Linked DNA regions of Homo sapiens: region 1 is linked to region 2. The links come from fine-mapping of genetic effects on gene expression. A gene starts in region 2. The other region holds a variant in brackets. All regions are shown on one strand. Distances are from middle to middle.

The links.
Region 1: its variant is fine-mapped to the expression of TMC2 in lung (TOPMed, PIP above 0.99). The same link has a PIP of 0.9 or more in breast, esophagus mucosa, esophagus muscle, gastroesophageal junction, skeletal muscle and subcutaneous fat.

What each region holds. Positions count from the first base shown.
Region 1 is chr20:2,618,797-2,635,185 of GRCh38, reverse strand. It overlaps TMC2 (transmembrane channel like 2), which reads right to left. Exons shown (of 20, transcript NM_080751.3): 17 at 10,790-10,915. LOC105372505 (a long non-coding RNA gene) reads left to right here. Exons shown (of 5, transcript XR_007067502.1): 3 at 15,887-15,984. Among named protein-coding and RNA genes, the nearest start is that of NOP56, 26 kb to the left of the region's middle. The variant A/G (reference allele first, on the strand shown) is at 9,893.
Region 2 is chr20:2,529,392-2,545,780 of GRCh38, reverse strand. TMC2 (transmembrane channel like 2) reads right to left here and starts at 9,208. Exons shown (of 20, transcript NM_080751.3): 1 at 9,126-9,208; 2 at 8,465-8,512. The coding sequence starts at 9,159. It overlaps LOC105372504 (a long non-coding RNA gene), which reads left to right and starts at 2,169. Exons shown (of 3, transcript XR_937204.3): 1 at 2,169-2,381; 2 at 3,657-3,843; 3 at 11,171-11,253.

The DNA.
Region 1 (16,389 bases), 89 kb before region 2:
CTTTCTTTTCACAGGTCCTAAGGTCTGGGGTTATGACCTGGACTGTACTACACAGGACACACAAAAGCCAGACTGCCACCTGGAGTGGATGCTTTGCCAGCCTATTATCTGCTAGCTTTTTATGTCCATCCTTATTAGTAGTTTTTCTCCATGACTTTCAAGCTCAGCTGCTCCAGCTTTGGTCTCTGGAACCTTCCCCCTCAGGGCTAGGCCATCCATAACTGCCTCAATAGAGCCTGTGAGCCCTCTCCAGTCAGAGAAGAGGAGCCCCATGGTCTTTGGGGCAGAGTGTAGGTCAGAGGCTGTCAAGTGAGCCTTCTGAAGCAAGGATTCAGAGATTCAGAGAACTATAGGTGAGGGGAGGAGAGAATAAAGGACAGGTGAAGAGACCAATTTCTGTTATGTAAGGCATTACTCTGGGCCAGTCCTTGCCATTTACCTAATTAGCCCATTTTTTTAAGGGAGGAATCAGAGGTCAGAGGCCAGAGAGGTAACTTGTCTGGCTCAAGATCACAGACCCAGCAAATGGTGGATAAAATGCTCATGGGTGGCTATGTACCTCCCAAGGTTGTTTCCAAATTTAGCATTTCTCCTTGGTGCCTTCAGGGTCAGGTTTGGTGTCTGGCTTTCAGAATTTCCCCAGGAGGGCACAAGGCAATCCAGATTGTCACTATCATGTCATCCCTGTCATGCCAGCAGCAGAGGAAATTTGAAATCAAGGATATAAAACAACACACAAGTGTTTGCTGTTGGCAATGACAGTATTCAGGGCACAGAGCAGATCTTCAAGAATGGGTGTTACATGAATAGATGAACAAATGAAAGGATTCTACATTCACTCTGGCCCCCTTAGGGTCCTGGAATCTCTGTGAGTCTATGTTCATTTTGAGTAAGCTACCAGAGAGGGTGCTGAAGGAGAGGCGCCATTGCAGAGTGTGGAGCTCCAGTTCCCCTCCAGGCTGGCAGCCTTTGAGCAGCGGGCAGGAAACTGACCACAGCGTTGGGGGAGGCCGGCTTCATCAGACTATCCTGTAGCTGAAGAGAGCCCTGATGAGGAGCAGCCATTTCTTGAAATACTTTTTGGGAATTTCAAAGCATAAACAGACAGAGACAAACAGATACATCTAAGGAACAACAAAGATGATAGTCAAAGAGGGAAGGTTTTAACAAAGTCTTTAAGCCCATCCAAGGCTAAAGTTCAATCCAGATGTCAGCAAAATTGGCAAAGACTTCTGAAAATCCTCTCTTCCTTAAAAGCAGTGAGAATGCCAGCCAAAATTGTCAGAATCAAATTTTTTCAGAACTCAAAATTAACCAAAGGTTTGCAGCAGATCTAGGGAGTACCTTTTCAAGGAAAACAGCTAAATTCCAGCAAGAACAGTGAGTTCTGCAGCATCTAAGTTGCCTTATATCCCCTCCCCTACCCAGTTCTGTAGTAGGTTTGGAAACCAACAGCACCAAATTTTGGTGAAAATCAGTAGCCTGGCAGTCACTGGAGGAGGTAGAATGGATTTGGAGCACCTTAAAATCCTCAGACCCAGAGAACTGTCATTATTTGATTTATCCAGTGGTTGATACTACTCACAAGGCTATCTTTATTTGACCTGGCTCAAAGCCCAATCAGTGTGAACTTTTTCTCTGAGATTGGCAAAAGCAATCAGAGGCAATTGTTGAACATCACGGCTGTGAGAAGTGTTGCATAACAGTTGGGGCAAACAATAGGCTAACCAAAAAGTTTAAAAGGAGAACTGGGGAATGGGATGTCCAATGGGGGCTTTAAAACACTTTGAAATATTCCTGGGAATCTATAGAGAACTGTGTGCATGATGTGTAAGGCTCTGTGCCTGTCCAGGGCTGTTTATGTGTCCAAGAAAGACTTGAGAAGGCCCTGAGCTCTCACCTCTGGTAACCTTGAGTCTCTGAACAAGCAGTCAGTGACAGCTAAGGTAGAGTTGTAAACTGCCTGGTTGAATGTTGAAGGCATACCCCAATACATACACAGAGCCTGTTGGGAAATACTGGGAGTCTTACTGGTTCCAGACATGTAAGAAAATCTCTTTCCAGTCAGTAGGTGTCTACTAAGCTAACTGAGCACAGACTTTAGTGGCCACACACAACAAAGAAAACAGACTTTACATAATTAGTTCAGAAAAGTTATTAAACAACAATAACGACAACAATTATAACAACAAACAGCAACAACAACAAACCCATGGAAGGGAGGCGAACCTGATTTCCATGGCTGCCATATAATACTATTTAAGATATCCAGTTTTCAGCAAAAACTAGTAAGACATGGCTGGGTGCAGTGGCTCACGCCTGTAATCCCAGCACTTTGGGAGGCTGAGGCGGGTGAATCACAAAGTCAGGAGTTCGAGACCAGCCTGGCCAACATGGGGAAACCCCATTTCTACTAAAAATACAAAAAATTAGCTGGGCATAGTGGCGGGCGCCTGTAATCCCAGCTACTCGGGAGGCTGGGGCAGGAGAATTGCTTGAGCCCAGGAGGTGGAGGTTGCAGTGAGCCAAGATCTCGCCACTGCATTCCAGCCTGGGCAACAGAGTGAGACTCTGTAAAAAAACAAAAACAAAAACAAAAAACCCCAAAAATCTAGTAAGACATACAAAGAAAAAAGAAAGCCTGGCCCATACACAGGGGGAAAAGTAGTCAATAGAAACCATTCCTGAGGAAACCTTGATGCTGTATTTAAGAGACAAAGACTTTAAATCAGTTATGTTAAATATGATCAAAGAATATGATCAAAGAACGATACAAAACCATTTCTAAAGAACTGAAAGTATCAAAATGATGTCTCACCAAATAAAGAATATTAGCAAAAAGAAATAAATAAAATAACCAAATAGAAATTCTGGAGTTGAAATCTACAATAACTGAAATAATAAATTTTCTGGAGGTGCTCAACATATCTGAGATGACAGAAGAAAGAACCAGCCTGGCCAACATAGTGAAACCCATCTCTACTAAAAATACACAAATTAGCTAGGTGTGGTGGCACATGCCGGTAATCCCAGCTACTCGACAGGCTGAGGCAGGAGAATCGCTGGAACCTGGGAGGTGGAGGCTGCAGTGAGCTGAGATCATGCCACTGCACTCTAGCCTGGGTGACAGAGTGAGACACCATCTCGAAAAAAAAAAAAAAGAATCAATGAACTTGAAAATAGATCAGTTGAGATTATCCAGTCTGAGGAACAGAAAGAAAAAAGAATGAGGTAAAATAACACAGCCTATGGGACAACAGCAAATGTATCAACACATGCCTAATGGGAATCTGAGGAGGAGAGGAAAGACAGAAAGGGTCAGAAAGAATATTTGAATAAATAATGGCTATTTTTAATCAGATTTCATCCCCAAATATGATGAAAAAATATTAATTTACACAGGAAGCTCAACAAATTCCATGCAGGATAAACTCAAAGAGATCTAGTCCTAGACATATCATAGCAAATTGAAAAAAAAAACAGCCATAGTCAAAGAGAGAATCCAGAAAGAGAGAAACAAATAATCATATACAAGAAAGCCTCAGAAAGATTAACAGTCAATTGTTTTTTCATATAAACCATGGAGGCCAAATGGCAGTGGGATGACATATTTGAAAGATTGAAAGAGAAAGACTATCAACCAAAAATTCTAAATCCAGCAAAACTGTTCTTCAAGAATGAAGGAGAAATTAAGTCATTCCCAGATAAAAACCAAGAGAAGTAATCACTAGCAGACCTACTCTGTAAGAAATGCTAGAGGGAGCTCTTTAGGTTAAAACGAAAGGACACTAGACAGTAACTTGAATCTACATGAAGAAATAAAGAGCACTAGTAAAGGTAACTACATGGGTTAACATGAAAGCTAGTATCAATGTAGTCTTTGTAGCTCTTTTTTCTCCTGTCTTATTCAGTTGGCATAAAATGTATAAAGATGTAATTTGTGTGGCAGAAACAACCTGAAGGAGAGTGGAGGGAATGGAGTTGTACAGGGACAAGGTTTTTGTATACTATTATAATTAAGTTGGTATTAATTCAAAGTAGTTTGTTATATTAATTATAATCTCCAGGGCAATCACTGAGAAAATAACTAAAACAAAATATAGTTAGAGAAATGACGTGGGAACTAAAATTATGTACTAAAATATTTAACCCAAAAGAAAGCAGTAATAGAGGAATAAAATAACAAAAATACATAAGACATATAGAAAACAGCAGACATAAATGTTAACTTATTGGTAATTAAATGTAAATGAATCAAACACTCCATATAAAAAGCACAGATTGACAGAATGGATAAACACTATGCTTCAGCTATATGCTTTTCCAAAGAAGCACACTATATTTTATTTCATTTATTTATTTAGAGAGAAGGTCTCAGTCTGTCACCCAGGGTGGAATGCAGTGGTACAAACATGGTTCACTGCAGCCTCAACCTTTTCAGTTCAAGCAATCCTCCACCTTTGTCGCCTCCCAAGTAGCTGGAACTACAGGCATGTGCCACCACACTCAGTTAATTTTTAAAGTTTTTGTAGAGATGGGTCTTGCCATGTTGCCCAGGCTGATATCAAACTCCTGGGCTCAAGCAATCTTCCTGCCTCAGCCTCCCAAAGTGCTGGTATTACCAGCATGAGCCACCACACCCAGCCAAAAAATGCACACTTCAGATTTTTAAGGTAATAGTAGATTGAAAGTAAAAGGATGGGAAACACATTAAGACAAAAATTGTTAGAGACAAATAGGATTATTTTGTAATTGTAAAAGGGTCATTTCATCAAGAAAATGTAATAAGTAAAAACATATATGCACCTAACAACACAGCCTTAAAACATACGAAGCAAAAACAGAATTTAAGGGAGAGATAATGGACAATCCAATAATAATAGCTGGAAATTCAATGCTTTACTTTCAGTAATAGAAACAATTAGAAGGTCAACAAGAAAATAGTAGACTTGAACAACTCTAAAAGTTCTATCCAATGCAATCGACTCCTTTTCCTGAGCCTTGAATTTATCAAGGCTCAAGTTCAAGATTTATTGTCTTCTACAATCCTAATTCCTTCTTCTTCTAAATATTTTTTGGACTTATTATTTGTCATTATTTTTAAGTCTTACTGATTAGGTGTTTTAAGTTCAGTGTCAAAGCATATTTGAAAGTGGTTCCTTATTGTCTGCATTAGGGATCAGCAAACTTTTTCTGCAGAGGGCCAGGCAATAAATATTTTAGTCTTTCTAGACAATACATTCCTTATCACAACAAGTAAATTCTGTCTTTTTCTGTGAAAAACAGTCATAGATAATAAATAAATGAATGAGCATGAATATGTTCCAATAAAACTTTATTTAACAAAATCAAGTGTGGTCCGGATTTAGCTTGTGGACTACAGTTTGATGACCCCTGGTCTACACCAAAGGAAAAAGATTCTGGCTTAGATAGCCATTATACAGGCTGTTTACTGCATAAAAGGCACCTGACTAAGGGGGTGACTGCTGGCTGAAATCTATCCATATTCTGTTTGTCAAATGTGCCCCTTGGCATGGGCCTACCTCCGTCTGAAGGAGTGGGCACCTTTAAAAAATTTGCACAAGGTACTATATGGGCTAGTAATGGCCCTAAATTCACCACCACCTTTTGAGGTCACTTTTTTTTTTTTTTTTTTACTTCTGTAAGAAATCAATAATTAGAAAAGTTACTCCACTTTCCTAATTATTGATTTCTTATACCTATGTTACAATGACTTACATTCCCTGGTTGTTTTCTTCCTTATTTCATGAATATACTTATCTCAACTCTCCAAAAAAGCAGTACTGTGCTTAACTGAAAACATTAAAAGCACTCCCCACCCTGTAAATGCAGGAAAAATACAAAAATATATTTCATCACCAAATATTAATTAACTTGTTTTTCCCATGGAAGGTACTAATTAATCCTACAGAGAAAAAAAGAGATCTAAGAATTAAATAAAATATAACATTTTCATTGTTTACAAATGAGAAAATGACCTGGAAGATTCAAGAACTTTGGTTGAGTAAATATGATAAACAATACACTCATAGGGTGACTGTATTAGCCTGTTTTCTTTTTTTTGAGATGGAGTCTCACTCTGTCGCCCAGGCTGGAGTACAGTGGCGCGATCTCGGCTCACTGCAAGCTCCGCCTCCCGGGTTCACGCCATTCTCCTGCCTCAGCCTCCCGAGTAGCTGGGACCACAGGCGCCCGCCACCACGCCCGGCTAATTTTTTGTGTTTTTAGTAGAGACGGGGTTTCACCGTGTTAGCCAGGATGGTCTCGATCTCCTGACCTCGTGATCTGCCCGCCTCGGCCTCCCAAAGTGCTGGGATTACAGGCATGAGCCACTGTGCCCGGCCTTATTAGCCTGTTTTCATACTGCTATAAAGAACTACCCAAGACTGAGTAATTTATAAAGGAAAGAGATTTAATTGACTCACTGTTCAGCATGGCTGGTGAGGCCTCAGGAAACTTACAGGTGGAAGGTGAAGGGGAAGCAAGGCACCTTCTTCACAAAGTGGCGGGAAGGAGAAGTGCCGAGCAAAGTGGGAAGAGCCCCTTATAAAACCATCAGATCTTGTGAGAACTCACTCACTATCACAAGAACGGCACGGGGGGAACTGCCTCCATGAACCAATTACCTCCACTTGGCCCCGCCCTTGAAATGTGGGGATTATGGGGATTACAATTCAAGATGAAATGTGGATGGGGGCACAAAGCCTAACTATATCAGTGACTGAATACAAAATTTATATATAGAAAATAAATAACATTTACATAGAAAAACAAAAACTAGTTAGAAAGTATGATGAAAGAGCTATCCTAATTTATCATAACAAAAAGAGAAATGCAGAGGAATACATTTAATAAGAAATGTGCATGAAATTTATGAAGAAAACTTAAAAATATTGAGAGACATAAATGAAAAAATGATAAGGAATACAGTATTCTTGGATTGGAAAACTTAACAACATAGGTGTGCCAATTCTTTCTGGATTTTTTTTTTTTTTTTGAGACAGAGTCTCGCTCTTTTGCCCAGGCTGGAGTGCAGTGGCATGATCTTGGCTCACTGCAACCTCTGCCTCCTGGGTTCAAGCAATTCTCCTACCTCAGTCTCTCAAGTAGCTGGGATTACAGGCACACACCACCACAGCTGGCTTATTTTTGTATTTTTAGTAGACATGGGGTTTCACCATGCCGGCCAGGCTGGTCTCAAACTCCTGACCTCAGGTGATCTGCCCACCTCGGCCTCCCAAAGTATTGGGATTACAGGTGTGAGCCACCATGCTCGGCCTTCTTTCTGAATTCTAATAAAAATGATCACAGATTATTTTTGTTGTTGTTTTGGTGCTAGGGAGCCTGCCTCTGTGGAAAATCAAATGAAGAAAGAAAAGACTTCTTTTTCTGGTCTTGACTAAGGGACTTGTATTGGTCCAGCTCTCCAGAGAAAAACAACTGTAAATGCTGAGCAAAATTTACAAAACTGTAGTTTAAGACATGGGAGAGTGACAGGCAGACTAAAGGGACTTGATGCTTGAGAGAAGGGAAGCATGTGAGGTGAGCTCCACATTCCTCCAGGGTTTCTCCCTGAGAGTATTTTCCAATTTGTGACCCAGAAGCAGAGTCCAAGCAGAAAGTGGAAATCTTACAATGTGGAGAAGATGCAGGTCAGAGTTAATTACTGCCACAGTCTTTGGGACTTGAGGGGCAGAATCCCAGAGAAGAACAAATTGCAGATAAATAAGCCAAACTCTGTGTACAAATTGCCCTCAAATGATTGACCAATTCTTCAATTGCTTCAGGAAGCCCAGAAGAAAATGACACCAGAGAGGCTGAAGAGCAGAGCAGAGATTTCACAGTGGCTGTAGCAGTACTACTGGAGAAAAAGAATAAGCAAAGACGGAAGAATTGGGAAAAGAGAGAATGGGTTTTAAGCCCTGCCAAGGTGGAGGGTGGTGGAGGCCAAAAGAATGAGGGTCGTGATCAACTCAGTATACGACTGGAGGCTATATGAGTAAACAGCAAGCTGTTCTCATGAATGCAGGATGTTGGCAAGCTGACAACTATGTCGGCACCCAGAAGGAATGCTGAGGGCAGTCACGCCCCAGGCACAGTGTTTCTTGTGGTTAGGCACATCTGAGGCCTGTTAGCAATGATGTGAACCCGTGATCAATCAAACAGCTGACCAATCGTTACCTCCTCCTCCCTGCTCTTTCTACCCAATAAATACGAAGGGCTGTAGAAGCTCAGGGCTGCAGAAGCTCAGGGCTGCCTTTGCTCACTAGAAGCAAGGAGTCCCCTGACCCGTTCTTTAAAACAAATCCTTTTTTTCTTTGTCTTCATTTCTGTGTTCGTCCTACTTCGTTCAGTCCCGTAGTAACTGTCACAGGAGGGAATTGGTAAACACTGTAGGCTTTCAGTTGAGACCCCTAAAAGACTGTGCTCAATAGTAAGGATCACATTGTAGGAGTAAGGTCAGTGTCTTGGAAATAGGGCAAAACTGAAATAAATCAGCCCTGAGAAAGCCCAAAGCTAGCAATAGCAAACTATTTTCCAAAGATGGCCACAATACTATGACTCCTGTCTTACATGTGCTTCTAGAATCTTGTCATTGCCTCATCAAAAGATAAGTCTATATTTCTTTCTCTTGAACCTGGGTATCCCTTTGTGATTGCTTCAATAGAGTATGGCAGGAGTAAGTAAAGATGCCATGTATATCCACTGCATTCTCTTGGGATGCTTGCTCCTGAAACTCAGCCACCATACTATGAGGAAGCCCAAGCAGCTTGTGAGAAGGAAGTGAGGCCTCCAGTGCCAGCTGGCCAGTCATGTGAGTGACCATCTTGAAAGTGGGCCCTCCAGCCTCCAGCTGAGCTGACCCAGATGATGTTGAGTAGAGAGGAAAAGAATGATTCCTGCTAAGTCCTACCCAAATTGCAGATTCATTAATAAAATATTATTTTTCAGTTTTGGGGGTTGTTTCTTATGTAATAATAGATAGCTAAAACATCAAGTCTTGACAGGATTAAGTGATCTCCTAGTATTCCATTTGCCCTTCAGGAAAAAAAACCCATCCCTTTGGGGAAAGATAACATTATTCACAGCCTCTATAATTTTTCATCCACATGTCTGACATCTAGTAAAAATTACATGCCATGATAAAAGTAGGGCTGAGGATAAACAAGAGGAAAACAAATGACAACAAAAATACACCCAGGTGGTTCAGATATTGGAATATCAGACTGGGATTTTAAAAGTAATTATAACCACTATGTTCAAGAAAATAGAAAGCTGGAGAATTTCACCGGAGAGTTGGAATTTATAAATAACAGTCCAAAGGGAATACAACCACTTTGGAGAGCAATTCTGTAAGATCTAAAAAGATTGAAGAAACACATGCTGATGACCCACAATTCTGCTTCTAGATGTCTACCTTAGAGCAACTCTCAGAATTGTGCAAGGAGATATATACAAAATGTTGGCTGGAGCGCAGTTTGCAATAGCCGAAAAGTGGAAACAGCCTAACTATCCCTATGCAGAGGAATGGATAAACTGTGGCTTATTCATGAGATGGAACATAGTAGAGCCTTCAAACATGTGCTCATGTATCCGCATGGATAAATCCCCCAACATAATGTTGTTTGAGGAAAAGCATGTAATGTGAGTCATTCATGAAAAGGTTTAAAACTCCGGAAACAGTACTATACACACATGTGATTAAAAAGTACAAAATATGCATGGAAATAATTAAATCTAGTCTGTATAATAGTTACCTTTGGGGAGGGAGGAAGAAAGAAGGATTGAGTGGGGCTTGAAGTGCATCTGTAATGTTTTATTTCTATTACGAAGAAAGATAAACCTGAAGTAAATATTGCAAAATGTTAAC[A/G]TCTGTTGAATCTTGTGATCGTGTACATGGTTGTCTGTACTCATTTGTATGCTGGGAATATTTCATAATTTTTAAAAAAGCATGCCAAAATAAGATTTTTTTAAATAAAGAAAAAATGCTAACATTTTTACTAGCACATTTTTTGATGGCAACAATTCCAATCCAAGACTCTGGCTTCCTGCCTTTCTTCCCTAGTTCTTTCCTTGAGCATTTACTGTTTGCCTGCTATGCTCTAGGCATTAGGCTGGCACCGGGGATACAGAGATTTTCGAACTTGTTCTCTAATGGTTGTTGAGGGGGACAGTGATGAAGGAACCAGCTTGTTCCAGTGTATAAGCTGCTCCATCGAGTAGTGCTGTGGGCCCAGCCAGGATCAGGCCGAATCACCGTTCAGCTTCCTGATAGGCTCAGAGCCCACAGGACTTTGATATTTCTAGTGAGCATTTTAGTGGGAGTTGTTGCAGATACTGTCAGGGCTCACCCAAATTTTCAGTGTGCTCCAAAAGACTTGCACTTGCTGGTGCCCTCATCTCTGTTACCAGAAGCTTCCCTTCCCTCTTGGACCCCTCACTCACACCCCTTGAAGCCATTTTACCCATGAATGACGCTGGGAGCTGGTCTATAAATGCCTCGGATCCTTTGCCCTTAGGGAGGGCTGAGTCTGAGGCACACTGCCTCCCAGAATTCTCACAGTGATAACCATGCATTTTCCTTTCCCTTCCTTGTCTCAAGTCCTCACCCCCTCCCTAATAAAATACTTACACTTGAATCCTTGTCATGGATTCTGCTTCTGGGGAGTGCAGACTAAGAAGGCAAGATGAAAAGGACCTGCCAAGGAAGTCTCAAATTCAAGGAGAAGTTTCCGTGGGGTGGAGCCATGGGTCCTGGCTAACTTACAACATCAGCAGGATGGCTGGGATGATCAGGCCTGGATTGGCGAGGAAAGCAAAGATCTTGCCCAGGAAGGTTGGGAAATCGTTTTCAATGGTCTCTTGGAGGACATCGTACATTCTGTTTTTCCCACTGGAAAAAGGAGAGGACACAATATAACATGCTGCCATGTGCCTGTGGCATTCACAGCTGTGTCCATGGCCCCCCTACCCAGGTCCAGGGCTGCTGCCTGCCACTGCTTTCCTGGAAGAACCAGAGCTCTGCTCCAAATGAACTGCAAGTAAAAAATTCCCCCTGAGGGGCTGCCATTCTGGCTAGGGTGACAGCTGGGTCGGCACACGGCTCACCGGCTTTCTATCCTAAGTAACTTACAACCTCTTAGCCTTCACTGGTCTTTTGTGTCTGACACCTTCCTCAGCCAGAAAAAAATGGTTTTCCTCATGTATTCTAACTGGAGAAATTGTCTGTGTTTGTAGCTACCAGGCCAACATGGAGCTTCCTTTGGGCCTGGGAAACAGTTCTGCAGAAGCTGATGTGCTGGACAACCTGAGTGTCTCTCAGAAATACCTAGAATTAACCTTCAGATTTTAAGTCTAGGAGATATTGGATCACCTAGGACAGGCTCCTGGACAGTTCACAACTGTAATTTTTATTTTCTTCAAATACCTAAGAACCATTATGCAGATTTACTTCTACAAATGCTGGCCCAGAGACTCCTGGATGCTGCTGGCTCTTGGTTGATAATTTTGGTGCCAAGAGGTGGAATACGGGGTTTGAAATTCCTGGTTTAAATCCTTGATCCCCCATTTATCACTGGTGAGACACGTGGACAATTATTCTCTCTCTCTCTGTCTTTTTTTTTTTTTTGATGGAGTCTCACTCTGACACCCAGGCTTGAGTGCAGTGGCACAATTTCAGCTCACTGCAACCTCCACCCCCGGATTCAAGCAATTCTCCTGCCTCAGCCTTTCAAGTAACTGGGATTACAGGTGAGCGCCACCACGCCTGCCTAATTTTTTGTATTTTTAGTAGAGATGGTGTTTCACCATGTTGGCCAGGCTGCTCTCAAACTTCTGACCTCAAATGATCCGCCCACCTCAGCCTCCCAAAGTGCTGGGATTACAGGCGTGAACCACTGTGCCCGGCCTGACAATTATTCTCTTTCTGCTTGTATTCATATCATGCCCTGGTTCTCCCCACGAAAGCTGTGCTGTCTGATGTGGCTATTAAAAATAAAAATTAAGATGAAGTCAAATTTGAAATTCAGTTTCTTAGTTACACATTTCAAGTGCTTAATAGTCATATGATTAGTAGCTGCTGTGTTAGAAATGCAGATATGGAATGTTTTCATCATTACAGTAAGTTCTATTGGATGTTCAATATCTGCAGAAGTTCAATACCTTTGGGCAAGGTATTGAAAATTTCTCTGCCCCAGTTTCCCCATCTGTATAATGTAGTATAATAATACTATAGTATAATATGGTATTTTAAGTATAATAATTGTATTTATCTCAGAAGATTGTTTAGAGGATATAGATGAGAATTGATATAAAACATTGAGTGTAGTGCTGTTAAGTTATAAGCGCCCTTCAAAATTTTGCAGCTAAACATTTTCTGTGTAAAGTATAGATGAGGAGTTCACCGACAATGGCTCATGGACAAATTCAGCTTGTTACCTGTTTTCTTTTTCTTTCTTTTCTTTTCTTTCTTTCTTTTTTTTTTGAGACAGAGTCTCTCTCTGTCGTCCAGGCTGGAGTGCAGTGGTGCAATCTCAGCTCACTGCAACCTCTGCCTCTGGGTTTCAAGCAATTCTCCTGTCTCAGCCTCCAGAGTTTACACACAATGCCTGGTGGATTACAGGCAGGCACCACTACGCCCGGCTAATTTTTGTATTTTTAGTAGAGACGGGGTTTCGCCATGTTGGCCAGGCTGGTCTTGAACTCCTGACCTCAGGTGATCCACCTGCTTTGGCCTCCCAAAGTACTGGGATTACAGGTGTGAGCCACTGCGCCTAGTCTGTCACCTGTTTTCATATGGTCTGTGAGCTAAGAATCATTTTTACATTTTTAAGTAGTTGAAAGCAAGTCAAAACAGGAATACTATTTTGTGACATGTAAAAATTGAAGTATAAAATTAAAATTTTAGTGTCTGTAAATAAAGTATTATTGGAACACAGCCATGCTCACTCATTTTTTGTGCTATAATGACAGGGAAGAGCAGTTGTGTCAGAGACCATTTGTGGCCATCTCATTGCTTACAACTGTTGCCCAGCACACCACAAATTGCAATGACGCAGTTATAGCATGATGGCATTTCAAGTGCCAGGCACATCACTGTATGACAATGTTTCATTTATTATTATTATTATTTTTATTTCCAGTGCATACCCGCCATGTACAAATGAGAAAAGTTAAGTTTACGTGTTAGGCTTTTATGTGACAGTTGAATGTAGATTATTTTGTCGTTGAATTAGATGGTGTATCAGATTCTAGTGCCTGCTGTTTGTCACGCTGGTGGCTTAAAACAATACAAATTTAATATCTTACAGTTCTGGAGGCCAGAAGTCTGAAAGGGATTCACTGGGTTGAAACTAACCTGGGGCAGGCATAGGATAACAGTTATAAACTTTCCAATACCAAAAAGGAGAAAATGGAAGGAAGAAAGAATCACCAACCTCAAGCAATTTTGAAATCCAATCAGCCAAGCTCCATTAGGGGTTTTATTTTTTATTTTTTGAGACAGAGTCTTGCTCGTTGCCCAGTCTGGAGTGCAGTGGCATGATTTCGGCTCACTGCAACCTCTGCCTCCCGGGTTCAAGTGATTCTCCTGCCTCAGCCTTGCGAGTAGCTGGAATTATAGGCACTTGCCACCACGCCTGGCTAGTTTTTGTATTTTTAGTAGAGATGGGGTTTCTCCATGTTCAAAACCAACAGCACAGAATCTTTAAATCTCTGCCTGCTTCTATGGTCACATCACCTTCTATTTTTCTGTAGTCAAATCTCCCTCCCTCTCCTTCCTTTTTTTTTTTTTTTGTTGTTGTTGAGATGGAGTCTCACCCTGTTGCCCAGTCTGGAGTGTAGTGGCATGATCTTGGCTCACTGCAACCTCCACCTCCCGGGTTCAAGCGATTCTCCTGCCTCAGCCTCCCGAGTAGCTGGGATTACAGGCACGCACCACCACACCTGGCTAATTTTTTGTATCTTTAGTAGAAACGGGGTTTCACCATGTTGGCCAGGCTGGTCTTGAACTCCTGATCTCGTGATCTGCCCGCCTCAGCCTCCCAAAGTTGTGGGATTACAGGCGTGAGCCACTGCACCCGGCCTCCCTCCTTCTTATAAGAACACTTGTGACTTAGGGCCCACCTGGCTAATCCATGATGATATCCCCATCTCAAGATTCTAGGAACTAGAAAATGAGTTATTTACTCTCAAAAATAAAATGGTGGGACAGGCATAGGATAAAAGTTGTAAACACTCCATTACCAAAAGGGAGAAAATGGAAGGAAGAAAGGAATCACCAGTTCCAAGCAATTTTGAAATCCAATCAGCCAAGCTCCATTAAGTTTTAAAGTCCTGAGAATAATCCTCTGGGCTGCAGACTCTGCCCTACTGTGCCCATAGCTTTGCCCTTGTGGGTTCACAGTTCTGCCCTTGGAAGAACACTTCCACCCTTCCTTCTTCTTGAAGGATAGCACATGTCTCAGCTGAGTAAATTTTATCAGTCTGTTTCCCGCCACAGAATTCTGGGAGGCCAATGATCTGCCTTTATTTTGTCTTCTTTCTGTTTCTTTCAGTCCAAGTTGGTAATGTTTCCGCTGATATAATATTGTCAAAAACTGTGTGAGTTTTTCATGTATGTCATGAGAATGTACTCTGTTAAAGAAGAGAGTCCCACATGATCTTTTCTGGATAATCCTATTTCTATTCCTGACTTCTGATGTGATGGTTGAGGCGATGCATTAGTCACACGATTAGTCAGAGTTTTCTGTGTGAATGATATTCAGACCTTTTGATCTTTCAGAAACACTAGCAAAAGGTTATCCAGACTCACTCTTGGCTTTCTTTTTACAGCACATTCTCATGACAGTGAATCTAGTTTTAGCATATTTTGCAATCTAGATAAGGCTGAGAATTTCCAGAATCATCAAATCCTGGTACTTTCTTGTTTATCAGTTACTTACTCAACATACCTCTTTCCTTGCACATTTTCTATAAGCAGCATGAAGAAACCAGGCTGTACCTTCAATACTTTGCTTGGGAATCTCTTCAGCTAAATACCCAAGTTCTGTTTTTTTCTTCTCTTCTCTTTTCTTTTTTTCTTTTTTGAAGCAGAGCCTTGCTATGTTGCCCAGGCTGGAGTGCAGTGGTGCAATCATGGCTTATTGCAACTTCCACCTCCTGGGATCAAGCAATCCTCCCACCTCAGCCTCCCAAGTAGCTGGGACTACAGGCACGTACCACCATGCCTGGCTAGCCAAGTTCCTTTCTTATAAGTTCAGTTTTCCATACAACTGTAGGAGATGGTTCTTATCATAGTATAATTGTCCCTGCTGACCTCCTACCCAGTGACAGATGGGAAGCTGAGAAAAAGGGGGCTGGCATTTGCACCCAGGGCCCAGCCCTCCAAACCTTGCTTAGGAAGAAGCCAACAGAGGCTTCTTCCATTCGGTTCTCCTTTCAGCCTGGCTAAATCTTAGGCCATCTGCACTTCAGCACATTCCTTCTGTTCTAGACTGATCCCCTCCTTCTGTGTGAACACTGTTTTCCAGATCACACCCTGCTGGAACACTCCTGCTAACATCCCTGGGCTCCAACCATCACAGGCCTTTATCTAGTAAAGTCCTTTATGAACTGAGAAAGACCGGATCAGCATTTCTCAAAGTGTGTTTGTGCGGGACATGAGTGACTTTATTTTACATGCTAATCTGCCTTGTAACTTCTAACTAACCCTGAGTCTGAGAGTGCCTCCCACATGACTAGCAGATGTATTACTCTTTATGTAGGAACTCTTATTCCTACATAAAGTTTCCTCCAAAACAACCCTTGATGCTGCTGCAGAAATCACAGGCTGTGATGTTCAGAGCCACCTATACATTCCTTCCAGAGCACGCATACTTTCCCCAAGATAGAAGCCCTGGGCCTGGGGGATTGAGGTGTGGAGATCTACCTGTCTCACGGCTGCTTGTGACCATGCATCTGACTGTAAGTTACCCCTAATAAATCACCCAAAGCCGACAAACTGCATTTGTCTCCTTCCTCCTTTGGATTCTAGGCTCTTTGGGCATTTAGGGGCTGTTTTGCATATACGACCCTTTTACGGGACAGGGTTTCTCCTCATTGGCAGGCAGGGTTGGGACTAGAGTGAGGCGGGTGAGGCCCTGAGTGCACAATTTAAGGAAGTAATGCCCTCAGGGTTGCTCATGTGCAGTGTAGGGCGTCACTCACCTGCCTCACCCTATTTCCAGCCCTGGATGAGTGATCCATGCAGAAAGGGTTCTGTGGTCAATAAGGACGGAGACACTAGCTTACAGGTGTTACCTCATTGCATGATTCTTCAGAGCCTTTAACAAAGGAGTGTGCATTGAGCATTTCTAAGTGAGATAATGG
Region 2 (16,389 bases):
TCTTCATCTTCTTCTTCCTCGTCTTCTTCTTCCTTCATCTTCATCTTCTTCTTCCTCATCTTCTTCTTCCTTCTTCTTTCTTCTTCCTTCTTCTTTCTTCTTCTTCTTCTTTTGTTTGCTTTAGACCTACTTAGTGATCTCAAAACTACATAATTAACTGCTTGACACCAAACTATTCATGATGAATGGTACCAACAGTTTACAGCATTATTTGACAATCCCATAGGAGTATTCTGGCCAAAACCAGATGACTGAATGGCCCCCAGTGACAGATACTGGATAAGGAACAGAAGCCTCCTATTACTCACAAACTAGACAGGAACTTGTTACCTTTGTAAACTAAAACCTACTCTCAGAATTGTCTATGATATCATCTATTAATTTGTTCTCTAGGAAAACGAGGTCAGTAGATCGTTTCATTGAAGAAGGAGAAAAACTGGGCCCTGGTTTGAGAACTGAAATCCTAAGTACCCTAGGGGTATTCTAGATTTCTTTCTTCTCCCCTCAAGACACTTCTTTTCATACTTTATGTATGTATGCATGCCTTTATGTATGTATGTATTTACTTATTTTTGAGACAGAATCTTGCTCTACCACCCAGAGTGAAGTGTAGTGGAGTCATCATAACTCATTGTAGTCTCAAACTCCTGAGCTCAAGTGATCCTCCCATATCAGCCTCATGTGTAGTTAGAACTACAGGTGTGTGCCACCATGCATGTCTAATTAAATTTTTTTTTTTTTTTTTTGGTAGAGACAGGGGTCTCATTATATTGCCCAGGCTGCTCTTGAACTCCTGGCCTCAAGTGATCCTCCTGCCTCTGCCTCTTGAATAGCTAGGACTACAAGTATGCGCCACCATGCCTGGCTAATTTTTAAATTTTTTTGTAGAGATGGAGTCTTGCAGTGTTGTCCAGACTGGCCTTGAACTCCTGGCCTCATGTGATCTTCCCACCTTGGCCTCCCAAAGTGCTGGGATTACAGGTGTGAACCACTGCACCCAGCCTTTGTTTCATAATTTACAAGAGATCTGATTAGTAGGGTAAATGTAGCATGCTGTGGTTGAGAGAACAGCAGATGATTTAGACAATGCCAGTAAGGCCATAAAACTCCCTTGTCAAGAGGTTTATGAGATTGGGTGGGTGGTGGTCCAGAACAGAACTGCCTTAGATAGGATATTGATCTCCCAAGGTGGGGAATGTGTGCTGTTTTAGTGGAAGAATGCTGTACTTATATTCCTGCAGACCTCTCTGAAATCTTTGATATTACTAAAAAGATCTAGGAAGTAAACAAAGAAATCAGAAATTGGGTAATTTGATGAGTAACCTCATATTTGGTTACATGGACTCTAGATTCGGGATGAGATCTACTTTCTTGTTTAGTCAGGGCACTCTTAGATCCTGGCTGAGAAGTAGATTATACAAACTCTGATGACAATCCTTCTCTTAGTATTTGTCTGTGTGCCAGCATTCAGATGTGGGATCTCCAGAGTTTTAAATGCTACTGCACTGCTGCCATCATTCAAATCATCCAGCAAGGGTTATCCACTAAAAAGAACTGGAAAATCTGGCTGGGTGCGTTGGCTCATGCCTGTAATCCCAGCACTTTGGGAAGCCAAGGCAGGCAGATCACTTGAGGTCAGGAGTTCGAGACCAGCCTAACCAACATGGTGAAACCCCGTCTCTACTAAAAATACAAAAAAAAAAAAAAAAAAATCAGCTAGGCATGGTGGCGAGCGCCTGTAGTCCCAGCTACTTGGGAGGCTGAGGCATGAGAATCGCTTGAACCCAGGAGGTGGAGGTTGCAGTGAGCCAAGATCATGCCATGCACTTCAGCCTGGGTGACAGAGCGAGACTCTGTCTCAAAAAAAAAAAAAAAAACTGACATGCAGGTTGAAACAGCTGCCACCAGAAACTGGATGTGAAACAACTGTTAACAGACAATTGATATGAAATGATGACCTCTCAAATACTGGTGAATATCTAGATTGACATACTGATGGCTTTTCCTTCAGCTTGGGCTGAAGAATGACCACAAGGAGAAATTGAGAACTCAAACCATCTTCCCTCATACTGAGTCTGGACACAGAGAGCCCAGCTATACCTTAGTGTCTGTATTAAGATGACTTTGTGCTACGCCTCTGCTTCATGAGCATGTCTTTATTTTTCTAGGCATCTCCTACCCAGGCAAATGTTGATTGTTCATTACAGGATTTTCCCAAAGACCTGTCAATTCTTCAATTTGGGCTCTAAGATTCTTTGAATGCCTCACCTCAAAATCCTGGCCATGCTGTTTATTGTGGACTATTATGTTGTGATTCTCACCCAGTCTCATTCCAGCTCTCACTTTGAAAGACCTGCCTTCAATCAAATTTCCAATTCTCAGTAAGTTCCGGCCTTCCTTCCCCTCTGTAAGATACTGCCAAAGCTTTGCCTGCTATAAGCAATAGATCGGTTTTGTCTTATCAACAGGTTGTGGGGTGTTAGGGAGCCAGCTTTGGACAATAACTTAGATAAATGTGTTTTGTTTTTATTTTATTTTATTTTTGAGACAGAGTCTCACTCTGTCACCCAGGCTGGAGTGCAGTGGTAAGATCTTGGCTCACTGCAGCCTCTACCTCCCAGGTTCAAGCAGTTCTCCTGCCTCAGCCTCCTGAGTAGCTGGGATTACAGGTGTATGCCACCTTGCCTGACTAATTTTTGTATTTTTAGTAGAGACAGGGTTTCACCATGTTGGCCAGGCTGGTCTCAAACTCCTGACCTCAAGTGATTCGCCCACCTTGGCCTCCCAAAGTGCTGGGATTACAGGTGTGTGCCACCATGCCTGGCCTTGTATTTTGTTTTAAAAAGAAAAACACAAAATACTAAATACTAAGTATATTACTAAATATAATATACTAAGTATAAAATACTAAAAATATAAAAATTAGCCAAGCGTGGTAGTGCTCGCCTGTAGTCCCAGCTACTCGGGAGGCTGAGACAGGAGAATTGCTTGAACCCGGGAGGCGGAGGTTGCAGTGAGCCAAGATGTGCCACTGACTCCAGCCTGGGTGACAGAGCGAGACTCTGTCAAAAAAAAAAAAAAATTGTGGACTAAAGAGAAAAGACTGTAAAAATATAGAAAGAAAAAGGGAGTGATAAATTATGGCTGGGATTGTTGGAAATGCTTCACAAAGAACTGATGTTTATGAAGGAGACTAGAAGACGCCATCCCAAAATATGCCACTTCGGCATAAAGATTATTTCAAGCTGAAGGCAATTAGATATATGTCGCTCCTCTGCCCTTTTGGACTAAAAGCAGGACATATATTTCCATTTGGAAGGGGTCTCCCTCTCCTATACTTGGAAGATAACTACTCCAGAGACAACTCTTAGCACCTGAGAAGACTCTTACCTGCTTAACAAACCTTACTGAATAACACTTATTTACCACACGTTTCCTAGTCACCTTCCATAACTTACCCAGAAGCCCCAAAACGCTTTTCCTTTGTCAAGCTTCTTCTCCACACTCTATCACCCTTTAAGATGATATATACCTCTAAGATAGTATATAAGCCCCAAATTCTAACCACCTCCTTGAGTCATCTTCTTTGTGAACTCTCATTTGTACATATGTAATTCAATCCTTTTTTCCCCTCTTGTTGATCTGTCTTTTGTCAGTTTGATTTACAGAGCCTGTAGTCACTGAACCTAGGAAGGTAGAGGAAAAAAATTCTCCTCTCCAACATTTACTCTGAAGTTTTTTTCAAATAAGAAAATTTTTTAATCAAACATGAGACTAATGGAAAGAACTCACATATCAATATGGGGGAGGACACAAAGACCGTTAAGCAAAACTTATGAACAGGTAAGTTACTAATGGGGAAATGCAATTAGGAAACGGCGGAAAATGCAGTTTTACTAGTTATCAAAGGAAATTTAAAATAAGTCAATAATGGGATTTCCTGTCTTGTTTATAGTATTACGTTTTTAAAATTTTTTATCCAGGACTAATGAGACTTGTTAAAATGCATATTTATTACTGGTCGCAATATAAATTGTAAAGCAACTCTTTATGCAGTTTGGCAACATGTAACAAGAGCTTTAAAATACTTTCTTTTTTCTTTTCTTTTTTTTCTTTCTTTCTTTTTTTTTTTTTGGTTTTGAGACAGAGTCTTGCTCTGTCGCCCAGTCTGGAGGGCAGTGGTGCAATCTGGGCTCACTGCAACCTCAACCTCCCAGATTCAAGAGATTCTTGTGCCTCAGCCTCCCGAGCAGCTGGGATTACAGGTGTGTGCCACCACACCTGCCTAATTATTGTATTTTTAGCAGAGAAGGGGTTTTGCCATGTTGGCCAGGCTGGTCTCAAACTCCTGACCTTAATTAATCCGCCTGCCTCGGCCTCCCAAAATGCTGGGATTACAGGCGTAAGCCACCATGCCCAGCCTAAAAATACTTTCTGATCTGTTAATTCCACCTGTAGGAGTCAACCCAAGCCCAAGAATCTTCAATGCAACATTATTTCTATTATAAAAATGGGAAATAACCTAAATATTCAGTAATAGAATAATGAATTAACCTGTGATTTATCTACTATGTGGAATATTTTACAGCTCAATTAAAAATAATTACCATGAAGTCTTTAATACATACTTAGGGGCTACTCTGAATCTTGAAGGATGAACAGGAGTTTGCAAGAGAAGAAGTGGGTAGAGAAATGGAGGGGGTGATTGTGGTAGCAAGTTAGGAGGATTCCAGGCAGAGGAAACAGGGGATTGAGGGGCCCCAGCAGAAATGCCAGGGAGTCTGGGGCATAGGCGTCCAAGGCAGAGCTGCGTCCCGGGTGTGTTCTGGTGTGGGAGGCAGGAGGAGAGGGGTACACGCCCACAGGGAGCTGGGTTGAAATCTGGAGGGTAAGGGTGTGATAATGGAGCATGTTTGCTGGGGCAAGGTCTACATCAAAGGGTCACACTAGCAACATGGAAGAAGGTGATGTGGGGAGGGTGACACTGCTCTGCAGCTGCTACAAGGAAGGTCTTGTGAGCATACTGGCTGTGATTGCTTCACTTATTTTAAAGGCAAAAAGAGGCACCAAACATGGGTCTGAAGCCATCATTAATAATCTCCATGTCTTTTTTTTTTTTTTTTTGAGAGTCCCTCTCTGCCGCCCAGGCTGGAGTGCAATGGCACCATCTAGGCTCACTGCAACCTCCGCCTCCCAGGTTCAAGCGATTCTCTCACCTCTGCCTCCCAAGTAGCTAGGACTACAGGCATGCACCACCAAGCCTGGCTAATTTTTGTATTTTTAGTAGAGACAGGGTTTCACCATGTTGACCAGGCTAGTCTTGAACTATTGACCTTAAGTGATCTCCCCACCTCAGCCTCCCAAAGTGCTGGGATTACAGTCATGAGCCACTGTGCCCGGCCATGTCCATGTCTTTGAGACTCGGTTTTAAATGCTGAGGTTTCTGCCAGGACTGATGAGATAACTGGCATAGGTGCATTGAAAAGTCTTGCGGCCAGGCACGGAGGCTCACACCTGTAATCCCAGCACTTTGGGAGGCTGAGGCGGGTGGATCACGAGGTATGAGTTTGAGACCAGCCTGGCCAAGATGGTGAAACCCGGTCTCTACTAAAAATACAAAAAATTAGCTGGGCGTGGTGGCAGGCACCTGTAATCCCAGCTACCTGGGAGGCTGAGGCAGGAGAATCACTTGAACTTGGGAGGCAGAGGTTGCAGTGAGCTGAGATCACATCACTGTACTCTAGCCTGGGCAACAGAGCAAGACTCCATCTCAAAAAAAAAAAAAAAAAAGAAAAGAAAAGAAAAGAATAGTCTTGTGTGCTATTTGCGGGAGTGAGCTAAGAGAACCTGTCCTGTATTTATCATAGAGCAGGTTTCCTTAGCCCACTCCTGCCCCAACCTCTTTCTTCTTCTCACTCCCTGTGGAAAAATAGTCTTTGATAAGACAACGTAAAGAAAGACTATTTTTGCATAATTTATCCAGGGTAGGAAGCTAGTCAGTGTTAGCCAGTGAGGTATGATTTGTCTTACAAATGCTCCAGCGCAATGCTCTGGAAGGCAGTAGCCCCCTGTTGCAAAAGGGACGGAGCAAAACAAATATTATCACAGCCATGACCCCTAAGAGAGCTCTAGGACTGAGTTCAGTGCTCAGAAAGGGCAGAGAAGCAGAGATCAAGGCAAGGGATCATGGAGAAGGGTTCCCTGGGGTCCCATAAAGATCAGCTCTATGTTGCTTGAAAGGACTGAATAGGAACGTCATTGTTTGCATCCTCTTCTGAGCTCTCTCTGTGTCCTCAGTCAGCTAATACAATGGTTTTCATTGTGGTAATGAACTGTACCAAGCATACTTCCCAGCACTGTAGATATAATTTGGTGTTACAATTTTTTTTCTGAGCTGTAATTCCTGCTGTAATTTAGTTCTCCAACTGAACGAAATTCACATGGAATGTGGAAAACAAGCCAGAATTTGCCCTTCAATCTTCCCCAGACCTCTTCAACACAGAAAATAAGCTGTTTTTTTCTCTTTCATAATCAGTTTTCAACAGACTCCACATAATGCATAATTTAGGAACTGGAAAGGCAGCTGTCTTGCTAGGAAGGCCTCCAAGCCCAGCACACGCTCTCCTAAATGTAACAGGCCTCCTCCTATGTAGCACCTGACTCGGTCAGAGAATTCACAGTGCAAAACACAGGCCGAGGAGAGGCTGCGGCAGCCCTCCAGTCCCGTGATCTCAACAGTTCAGTGCACTTACCAAATGATACAGGAGGAGGGAGAGTTCTCATCCTTCTTTTCAAGGAACACAGTAACAAACTGTAGCTATTCTGAGAAAAGAACATTGTATTCTTAAACTTTTATTCCCTCCTGGTAGAGTATAAAGGGAAGGATGAGAATATCAGGTCCCGTCGCAGGTGACTCCAGAGGAGATTTAAAATGGAAACCTTCATGGGGCTGGGTTTCAGTTAATTCAATATATTCCCAATGTTTAACTTTACTGCACCCCTTCACCACTTAGATCTGTGAAGTGAAAATTCTGACCAATTTCCTGTGTTCTATGGGAAAGGGAAAACGGCAGCGGCAACGTGGAATATTTCAGTAGGAAAGGGTTTGTGTTGTAGGCAAAATGGTCTTCCATTTCAGTCCTACTAAGGACTACTGCTCACAGGGGAGTCCCGCACAGCACAGCCCTGCAGCAGAGGCAGAGGGAGGCCAGGCTGGGTGCGGAAGGGACGGCATCTGGATGACTACGAGGGGAGTGGGGTGTGGAGAACCAGCCTGAGCATCCTACAGGCAGTGGTCACTACGGGAGCACCGTGGCCCGACCCCCGGGAGGAAGGTTTCTCGTCTGGCCACCCTGGGGCATAGAACTTTCTCACATTTGCTCCTTCATCTTTGGATTGAGATAAAGAGTGGATGAGGCAGGCAGGTGGGGTAGGAAGAAGGGACAGTGGCTGAGGCAAGTTCCGGGATAGGGGCCAGGAAGGGCTGTTGAGATGCCATGGCTGCACCCCCTGCCAGCCTCTGCCCAGCTCTTCCTTGCCTCCTGCTCCTGGGTCTCTCCCCTTGTAACACAGCGGCCTCACTGAAGCTCAGGCTCCCGACAACCAGACAGCAGCGGGTCACAGGAGCGGAAAGGGCAGATGAAGTGGCTCCTGGGGCCAGCTCCCTACTGGCCAGAGTGGGGCCAGGACAGGGCCCTCCCACAGGAGGGAGTGGAAAGGGCCCTCCCTCCCAGAATGGGGGAGGAAGGAGATCTCTTCCAACCCCCCAGAACCCCATCACTCCCCAAGATTCTGGTTTCTTGCCTACTAGTGTGGGGCGCAGGACCCAGCCCTGCCTGGGACGTGAAGGGGGAGAAAACAGCATCGCATCCATAATATTTTGTGACATGAAGATGCCCAGCCTGTGAGTGTGGCTTCTGCCCCTCTCCCCTGAACCCTCAGTCTCAACCAAGGGTTTTCTCTCCCGCCTATGGCTTCCTTGGGCTCTCCCACTTCTCCTGGAGCAAGTTGGCTCCCTCACCGGCTCACGGGAGAGCTGTGGTCACATTCCCAGTGGGAAGGTGATGGAGCACCCATTATGCCTACTACTTTTTGGAGGTTAAGAGTGTTCCTCCTAGAGTCCGGGGGCCTGGATGTGAATCTGGCCACACCACCCGCCAGAAGCCTGCACCGAGCTTCCCTGCCCTCTGTCTGGTGAATGTTCACTGCTTCCCAAGGCTCAGCTCAGAGTGTCACTAACCCTGGGAGTCTCCCCTGACACCGAGGGCTGAGCAGCACCTTCTCTGAGTGGTACTCTGCCCCCTCCCATGTTAAACACCTTGCCTCCCAGGAAGGCTCCATGCAGGGTGTTGAATGAGAGGGAAGGAGATGAAGGAGAATGTTGGATGGGTGGCTGGACTGTTGGGCTAAGCAGAGGGCACCCAGGCACTGCAGGCTCCCCAGAGACCCCACCACCCCATCTCACCTGTGTGTGGAGAGCCGCTCTTCACCCGCCCTTTCACTCCGCCTCGTGCTGTAAGAGACAGGATTGCTGACAAATGGCTGGCCTCTGGTGAGTCCCCCTCCCTGCAGACCCCCGGTCACTGTGGGACCCCTCAGCTGATTTGTGGCTGCCTCAAACTGGGACCCAGCTCCAATGATTTTACTCAGCAAATTATAGAGTCCCCTGCCTGTCACATTTGTCTGATACTGTCAGTCATGAGGTCAGAACATCCCCCACCCCCTGCCCTGCACAGAGACAGAGACAGATAGAAATCTGCTGAGGGGCTTGCTCGGAACAGGCAACCCTAACCGAGACAATAGGTGGCTGAGACGCCCCAGCAGGCTCTGAGGAGCATGCATCGGCCGTGACAGTCTCCAGTGCTGGCCTGAACACAGGTGCTGTGCACAGGTTGTCTTGAATCCTTCCAGTAGCCCTGCAAGGAGGTGATGACTACCCCCATCTCATGCGTGAGGATCAGAGAGGTTGAATAACCAGCCGAGGTCGCTCAGCGCACAGGGGACAGGCCCTGGACTCAAACCCAGCTCCTCCCTATGCCTCTGAACACCATATGTGCTTCCCCCATCCCCTGCTGCTGCCCAGGAACCCTGTGGGCGGGCCCCGCAGGATCAGGACGTGGACTCACCTTCCTCTTTCAGGCCCTTTACCTGGTGGCTCATGGTCAGCAGCACTGCTGGGGTCCTGCACAGGCTCACGCAGCGTGCTCCTGTATGCACGCCTTCAGCCTGGGCTGCTTTCCTGCCCTCATGGTGGCTGGCCTCCCTTCCTAGACCTGACAGCAGGCGGGGCTTCTTGGTTTGAGATTGAATGTGGAGGTGGGTGAAGTTTGGGGGAGAGAGACGGGTGAAGGAAGGCGACGAGTTCCCGGCCCATCAATCCGGCCACACACTCCTCTTCTCAGGTTTCCCTGCAAAGAGGCAGCATGGCCTCATGTTTCAGGCATCAGTTATACATGAGGGGCCCTGGAGGGGCCAGGAGCTGCAGGCTTATCTCCTGGCAATGATGCCGCTGGCACTCTAGCCAGAGGAGGTGTGAGGAGCATCCCAGGCCCTCTCCCACTATCTTGAGTCCCTGATTGGGACAAAGCACCAGGGAAATTCTAGAATGTTTGTTTAAGTTATTACTTGGGCTTCTGTTTAAAATGCAGATTCTGGCATGTGGTGGTTCACACCTGTAATCTCAGCACTTAGGAAGGCAGAGGCAGGAGGATTGCTTGAGCCCAAGAGCTCAAGACCAGCCTGTGCAACGTAGTGAGACCCCATCTCCACAAAAAGAAAAATAATAATAATAAATTTTTAAAAATAAAATGCATACTCCCAGGAGTGGCACTGGGCGTTGGAATCAGTCAGTCTGTGCCAGGCCCTGGGAGCCTGCACTGTGGATCCTGCTGCAGGCGTCCTGAGCCCACACAGATGAATGTTCCCGCTCAGCCCCCGCCCCCTCCCTCAGCAGCTTTTCCTCCCTGGCTTCAGGGAGGCACAGATTTGGCTGCTTTGAAAACCATCACTAAAGTGTCAGAGGGACCCTCTGGAAGGCAGTCATAAGGTCTCAGAGTGTGGAGTTCTTAATCTGGAGTCCCTGGAACCCCCAGAGCTGTGGATGGAATTCTGTGGGTTTGTGAATAGTGATGGAGAAAATACTACACTTTCACTTTTCCTAGCCTTAACTGCGATTTAGCATTTCCCTCAATCATGAATGTAAGCAAAGATGTGATTTTTGTCTCAGCAAAAGTCACAGTTATTTTTTTTCCCAATTAAACCACTGGGGATGTCTCAAAATATCTTACATGTTATCACAACTTCAAAATTATGATAGTTAGAGACCTGCCATGAAATCTTGTTATTTAATTAGGAAGCATATATTGTCATTATATGAAAGATATTTAAAGTGATTTTGATGCCTATTTCAGGATCATTGGTCTCCTTTGTAATCCTAGTGTTTTATTTTATGGATTTAATGTCTATGTTCTGAAAAGCGGTCTGTGGCTGGGCGTGGTGGTTCACGCCTGTAATCCCAGAATTTTGGGAGGCCAAGGCAGACGGATCACCTAGGGTTGGGAGTTCCGGACCAGTCTGGCCAACATGGTGAAACCCCATCTCTACTAAAAATGCAAAAATTAGCCGGGCGTGGTGGGATGTGTCTGTAGTCCCAGCTACTCAGGAGGCTGAGGCAGAATTGCTTGACCCAGGAGGTGGAGGTTGCAGTGAGCTGAGATTGCACCACTGCACTCCCTGGGTGATAGAGTGAGACTCTGTCTCAAAAATAAAAAAAAATATAAAAAGGGGTCTACGGACCTTACCAGGATGCCAAAGGATTCTATGACACAACAGAATAAAAAGCCTTCCCCAGGGCAAGTCTCCTGTGGGTGTCAAGGACAGACCTAGCCTCTGATCATGCCCATGTACTTTCTCAGGGGTCAGGAGTAGGAGTGCCTGTCCTCATGCAAGCTTGGCGAGGGAAGGGGCAAAGGAGCTACCTCTAAAATGCACGTGCAACGGTTCATCTCAAGCTTTGAAGCTTTTCTCTTTGTCCCACACCTTGATCTCCGACCCAACTGGTTCCTGCAGGGCCGCCCCAGTCCCCGGGGCATGAGGGCAGTGGGAGGATCTCAGTTGCATTCTCTGGCATCCATACTGCAGGACTGCAGCCGCAAATCCCTCTCCCCACCAGGGCCATGCCAGTGCAGGACCCCGGTCCATGTGAGAAGCAGCACGGGCAGCTGTGCAGCCACAGGACAGCGTGGCCCAGAGGACTGGTGAGTAAGGTTTCTGCTGGGGGTGCCCCAAGCGCTCTCCCCTGATGAGTGAGGACCCCCAGCAGCCCTTTACCCTGCTCTTTTTTTTTTTTTTTTTTTTTTTTGAGACAGCGTCTGGCTCTGTCGCCCAGGCTGGAGTGCAGTGGCGCGATCTCGGCTCACTGCAAGCTCCGCCTCCTGCCTTTACCCTGCTCTTGTTGTTCTCTGTTGCCAGAGGAGAAAGGCTTTCTACAACACCTTCATCTCCGGAGAGAAATTCCCTCCAGATAGGACTATCAAATTCCCTTGTACCTGACTGTCCACACAGTCGATAACTCCACTTTTCTCCTCACAGATAAAAATGAGCACCCACTGGGGTCAGAGTCAGTTCTCGGCTCTGGGGATTCATCAGCAAATGAAACAGAGACCCTTGTCCTCAGGGGCTGATGTGTTTTTGCTGTCTGGTGGCTGGGTTTAGCCCTTGGTGTCTGAAGGAGTGATCTAGGAATTGGCAGATTTCTTCTCTCTCACAACAAACCCTGCTTTCCACAATTATTTCTAAGGAATTCAAAAATCCAAGTTTGGAAGTCAGATACTGAACACAGAGTATTTTGCTTTTTTCTTTGCACGCCACCTAGATCAATTCCAATGCTTCCTGAGATGAATACACATTCAGGCAAGAGGGAGCAGGTCTCACATCAGAGAGTGTGAGAAAGAAAACGACAGTGATGTCTTAAAACTATTATCCTCGTGGCATGTGTGTTGCACACTGCTCTGTGCTAGGTCCTGCCTGGGGCACTCTTGCCCCAACCTCTCTATTTCTCACAACAGCCCGGTGAGACAGTGTTGTCACTCCCATGTGTCAGATGAAGAAAATGAAAAAACGCGGAGCCCTTGTGTCTCCTGGGCAGGTCTGTGACAAGAGATCAATTGAGTCTGGGTCTGGAAGCTGGGATATGTGGCTTTGACTTGGGCTGACCATTAAATCCCCAAGTGCCTTCTTGTGAAGGTCACTTCTGGGCTGTGGTTTCCTTGTTGTTCAGGGTTAGATTCCGTAGTGGACACTGCCAGTGATCTGCCCAGATTCCCTCTCAGAGCAAGTGCACCCATCCTCCAGGGCTAAGGCACATAGCGGACCCCTTCAACGGAGGAGAATTGCCTTTGGCCGAGCAGGGGCTGCTGAACCCTGAGGTAATCCCATCACCATCCCCGGATTAGCCTACAGCCACAGATGGATGAACAAAGAGGTATGACAGCCCGGCCTCTGTCAAAAATGGGAACAACTTATTGATGTCATTCACATCCCAGAGCTTCCTGTGAGATGAGCCAGAAGCTGGACTCCAGTGGGGTCTCTGCTCATCCCCTTCTCCTGCCCTGTCCTGCTTCTTGCCTCTTCTCCTGAGAGCACCCTCCACCCCCGCCTGCCCCGTCTCAGGCTCTGCTGTTAGGGAACCAGGCCTAATGTTGCCTTTTCTAGAAAGGCAGCTGCTCGTCCTCCTGCATAGGCTGGGGAGGGAACTGAGGGAGCTAGGCTGGTAGGGATGAAGGGCATGGGGAGGTGGGAGCAGGGATGCTGATGCTCACTTAGACCAAGGGGGAGACAAGGTCCAAGAGGAGAGTGGGACAGGCCTGAGCACCCCTAGGCTGGCCCATCTGCTTGGACATAGAATCCAAGGTGTATCTCTGAACCAAATGCAAGGATTCTATAACATGTCTGTCCTTCTAGCCTCCAATGACTATTAGGATTCGACTGCCTTTTCCCCAGTCTTCACTCACCCCCCGCCCGAGGGTTAATATTAAAAGCAGCAGAGCGGCCTACATAATTTGCAGGGCCCAGTGGAAAATGAAAATGTGGGGTCCCTTGTCCAAAAAGCAAGAAAAATGAACAGTTAAAGATACTAAAATACAAAGCCTTTCTCTTTCTACTATTTAACGTCATTCTGAGAAAACTCAAAATTTTAAATTATTTGCATGGATCCCACTGTTCATCTGTATATCGAGCAATAACAGGTTTCAGTGCAAGTATAAGAGTACTTAACTCCTATGTGGAATCACTGAAATGACACAATTTGTATTTTGTAGCTTGTATATGTGCAGGATTTCAGGCTTATCAGGACTGTAGAAATGCTGCACAAAGCCAACTCAATGGTTTTACTTCACGTCTTGGTATGTGCATATTCTACCAATGTTTCCTGCCTTTGGCTTACTGATGAGTGAAAAAGAACTGGGAAAAAAAAGGAATTATGGGTTTCTCTATCTTTTCCTTTTCTTCTGGGTCATTATTGTCAGCCTACGTGGTTGGCTAATCCAGGGAAGTAACTTGAATGAAAAAGAATAGGATAGGGTCCCTTAGTTGTCATGCTTCTTAGAACACCACTGCCTTCTTTTAGTGTTTGAAGCAAGTTCTGGATTAAATGGGAAGTGTAGCCCCTCTGGGCTGGAAGCATTCCTACATATTTAACCACAGATATTACACCCCTGCCTTGTACTGGCTTTGAGTCTTGCTAAACTCCCATGCGTCGTGGGCCCACTGGAATTATGTGCTCATGGGGCATCATATATGGGATACGCAAATAGGGCGGCATATGTTCCTATCTCCTCTGCTCATGTACGCACCCCATTGTCCCATCAGACTTCCCCCCCTCCTCCTTCTCCTTCTCTCCTCCTCCTCCTTCTCCTTCTTCCTTCTTCCTTCTTCTTCTTCACAGGCTCAGGCTATAATGCAATGGCATGAACATGGTTCACAGCAGCCTCAACATCCTGGACTCAAATCATCCTCCTGCTTCAGCCTCCCAAGTAGCTGGGGCCGGAAAAAAGCACCACTATGCCCAGCTAATTTTTTTTTTTTGTTGTTGTTTTTGAAACAGAGTTTTGCTCTGTCACCCAGACTGGAGTGCAGTGGCGTGATCCTGGCTCACTGCAACCTCTGCCTCCCAGGTTCAAGTGATTCTCTTGCCTCAGCCTCCTAAGTAGCTAGGATTACAGGAGTGTGCCACCATGCCTGGCTAATTTTGTATTTTTAATAGAGATGGGGTTTCACCATGTTGATCAGGCTGGTCTCAAACTCCTGACCTCAAGTGATCCATCCACCTTGGCCTCCCAAAGTGATAGGATTACAGGTGTGAGCCACTAAGCCCAGCCTTAATTTTTAATTTTTTAAAATTATTTTTTATTTTTGAGATAGAGTCTCACTCTGTCACCCAGGCTGGAATTCAGTGGCATGATCTCGGCTCACTGCAACTTCTGCCTCCCGGGTTCAAGCAATTCTCTTGCCTCAGCCTCCCAGGTAGCTGGGATTACAGGCGTGTGCCACCATGCCTGGCTAATTTTTGTATTTTTAGTAGAGATGGGGTTTCACCATGTTGGCCAGGCTAGTCTCGAACTCCTGGCCTCTAATGATCTGCCCACGTCGGCTTCCCAAAGTGATGTGATTACAGGCGTGAGCCACCACACCTGGCCCAATTAACTTTTTTTTTTTAGAGATGGGTCTCACCGTGTTGCCCAGGCTGATCGTGAACTCTTTAGCTTATGCAGTACTCCTGCCTCAGCCTCCCAAAGTGTTGGGATGACAGGCGTGAACCACCATGTCCAGCCCAAAAGATAAAATTCTTAAGAATTTCACTATAGGCTGGACGCGGTGGCTCACGCCTCTCATCCCAGCACTTTGGGAGGCCGAGGCAGGTGGATCACTAAAGGTCAAGAGTTCGAGACCAGCCTGGCCAAGATGGTGAAACCCCATCTCTACTAAAAATACAAAAATTAGCCGGGTGGATGTGCCTGTAATCCTAGCTACTCGGGAGGCTGAGGCAGGAGAATCCCTTGAACCCGGGAGATGGAGGTTGCAGTAAGCCAAGATCACGCCATTGCACTCCAGCCTGGGCGACAGAGCGAAACTCCGTCTCAAAAAAAAAAAAAGAATTTCACTTTCACTTTTTCAGCACAGTATTAGACCAAGTGCAGGGCGCTTCTGAGTGTGGAGCCATGAGCAGCCACGCGCAGGCTGCACACTCAGGAAGCCCACCCTTCAAGACAGCCACAGCTGAGAGTTACCTGTCACTGCCTTTCTGCCAGGAACTTGCCAACCCCTTTAAATGACTTATTGAATCATCACAACAGCCATTTGAGGCAGATTGTCTTATCTTTCTTTACAGATGAAAAAATGGAGGCTTAGATGTGATGTGTCCCAGCAGTCCCTGGAGACAGGATTCAGCCCTGTTGACTGTTCTTACTCCAGAGCCCAGGCTTTTATTCCCTACACTCTTCTGACCTCTTGGGAAAAACCTGGACCACACCATATCCTCCTTTCCAAAGGTCCCCGTGTTTGCCTCCTACCTGGGCACCGGGCTGCTGGCCCTGCCCTTCAGTTTCTCTCTTGCATGGCAGCTAAGGCAGCCCCCAGAGCAGAGGTCTGACTTCATCTCCCCTCTACTTAAAACCCTTCGCTGGGACTCCATGGCCTAGGGGTAAAACCCAGACTCTCTAATGTGCCATCCAAGGCCCCGGAGAGCTCCAACACCCTCCAGCCCCCTCTGCCTCTCTCTTTCAGTGCAGCTATTCCTACCCACTGATGTGACTTGCTCTCATTCGAGGTACTAGAACTTCTCTTTGTCTTTGCTCCCACTATCCCCCCTGCCTGAGGCACAACTATGAAGACTGCTGACTTCAGGACATGTGGCAGACCCCTGGGCACACTGCCCACCCAGCATTTTACAATATGACTTGGAATGATGTTTCCTAGCAGAGCGATAACCCTAGCAAACTGCCAGGTGGGGTGTGGTGTCTGAGCAGAGCACTCCAGCCTCTGGGAAGACTCCCTCTCTGCTCTGCCCTTGGTTTTTGCCTCATCAAGATTTGCCTTTTCTTCATGGTGGTCTTGACATGTCCGTAACTGGAAACCTCTTGATTTCACACATTTGCAACTTTTAAGAAAAAAAAAAAGTGACACAAAAATGTGTTTTTAACTTTTTGTGAAATATTCCTTTTCTTTTTCTTTATTCTTCTTAACACAATACTTTAGCTAATACTATTTGAGTAACATTTATTGGACATGCAACTCAAACATTATTCTGAAAATTAATAATATCAGAGTGTTGTGCCCTAATGTTATCAGGATAGTGAATGTCCCTATTGCTGGAGCTGAGGAGGGTGAACTCTG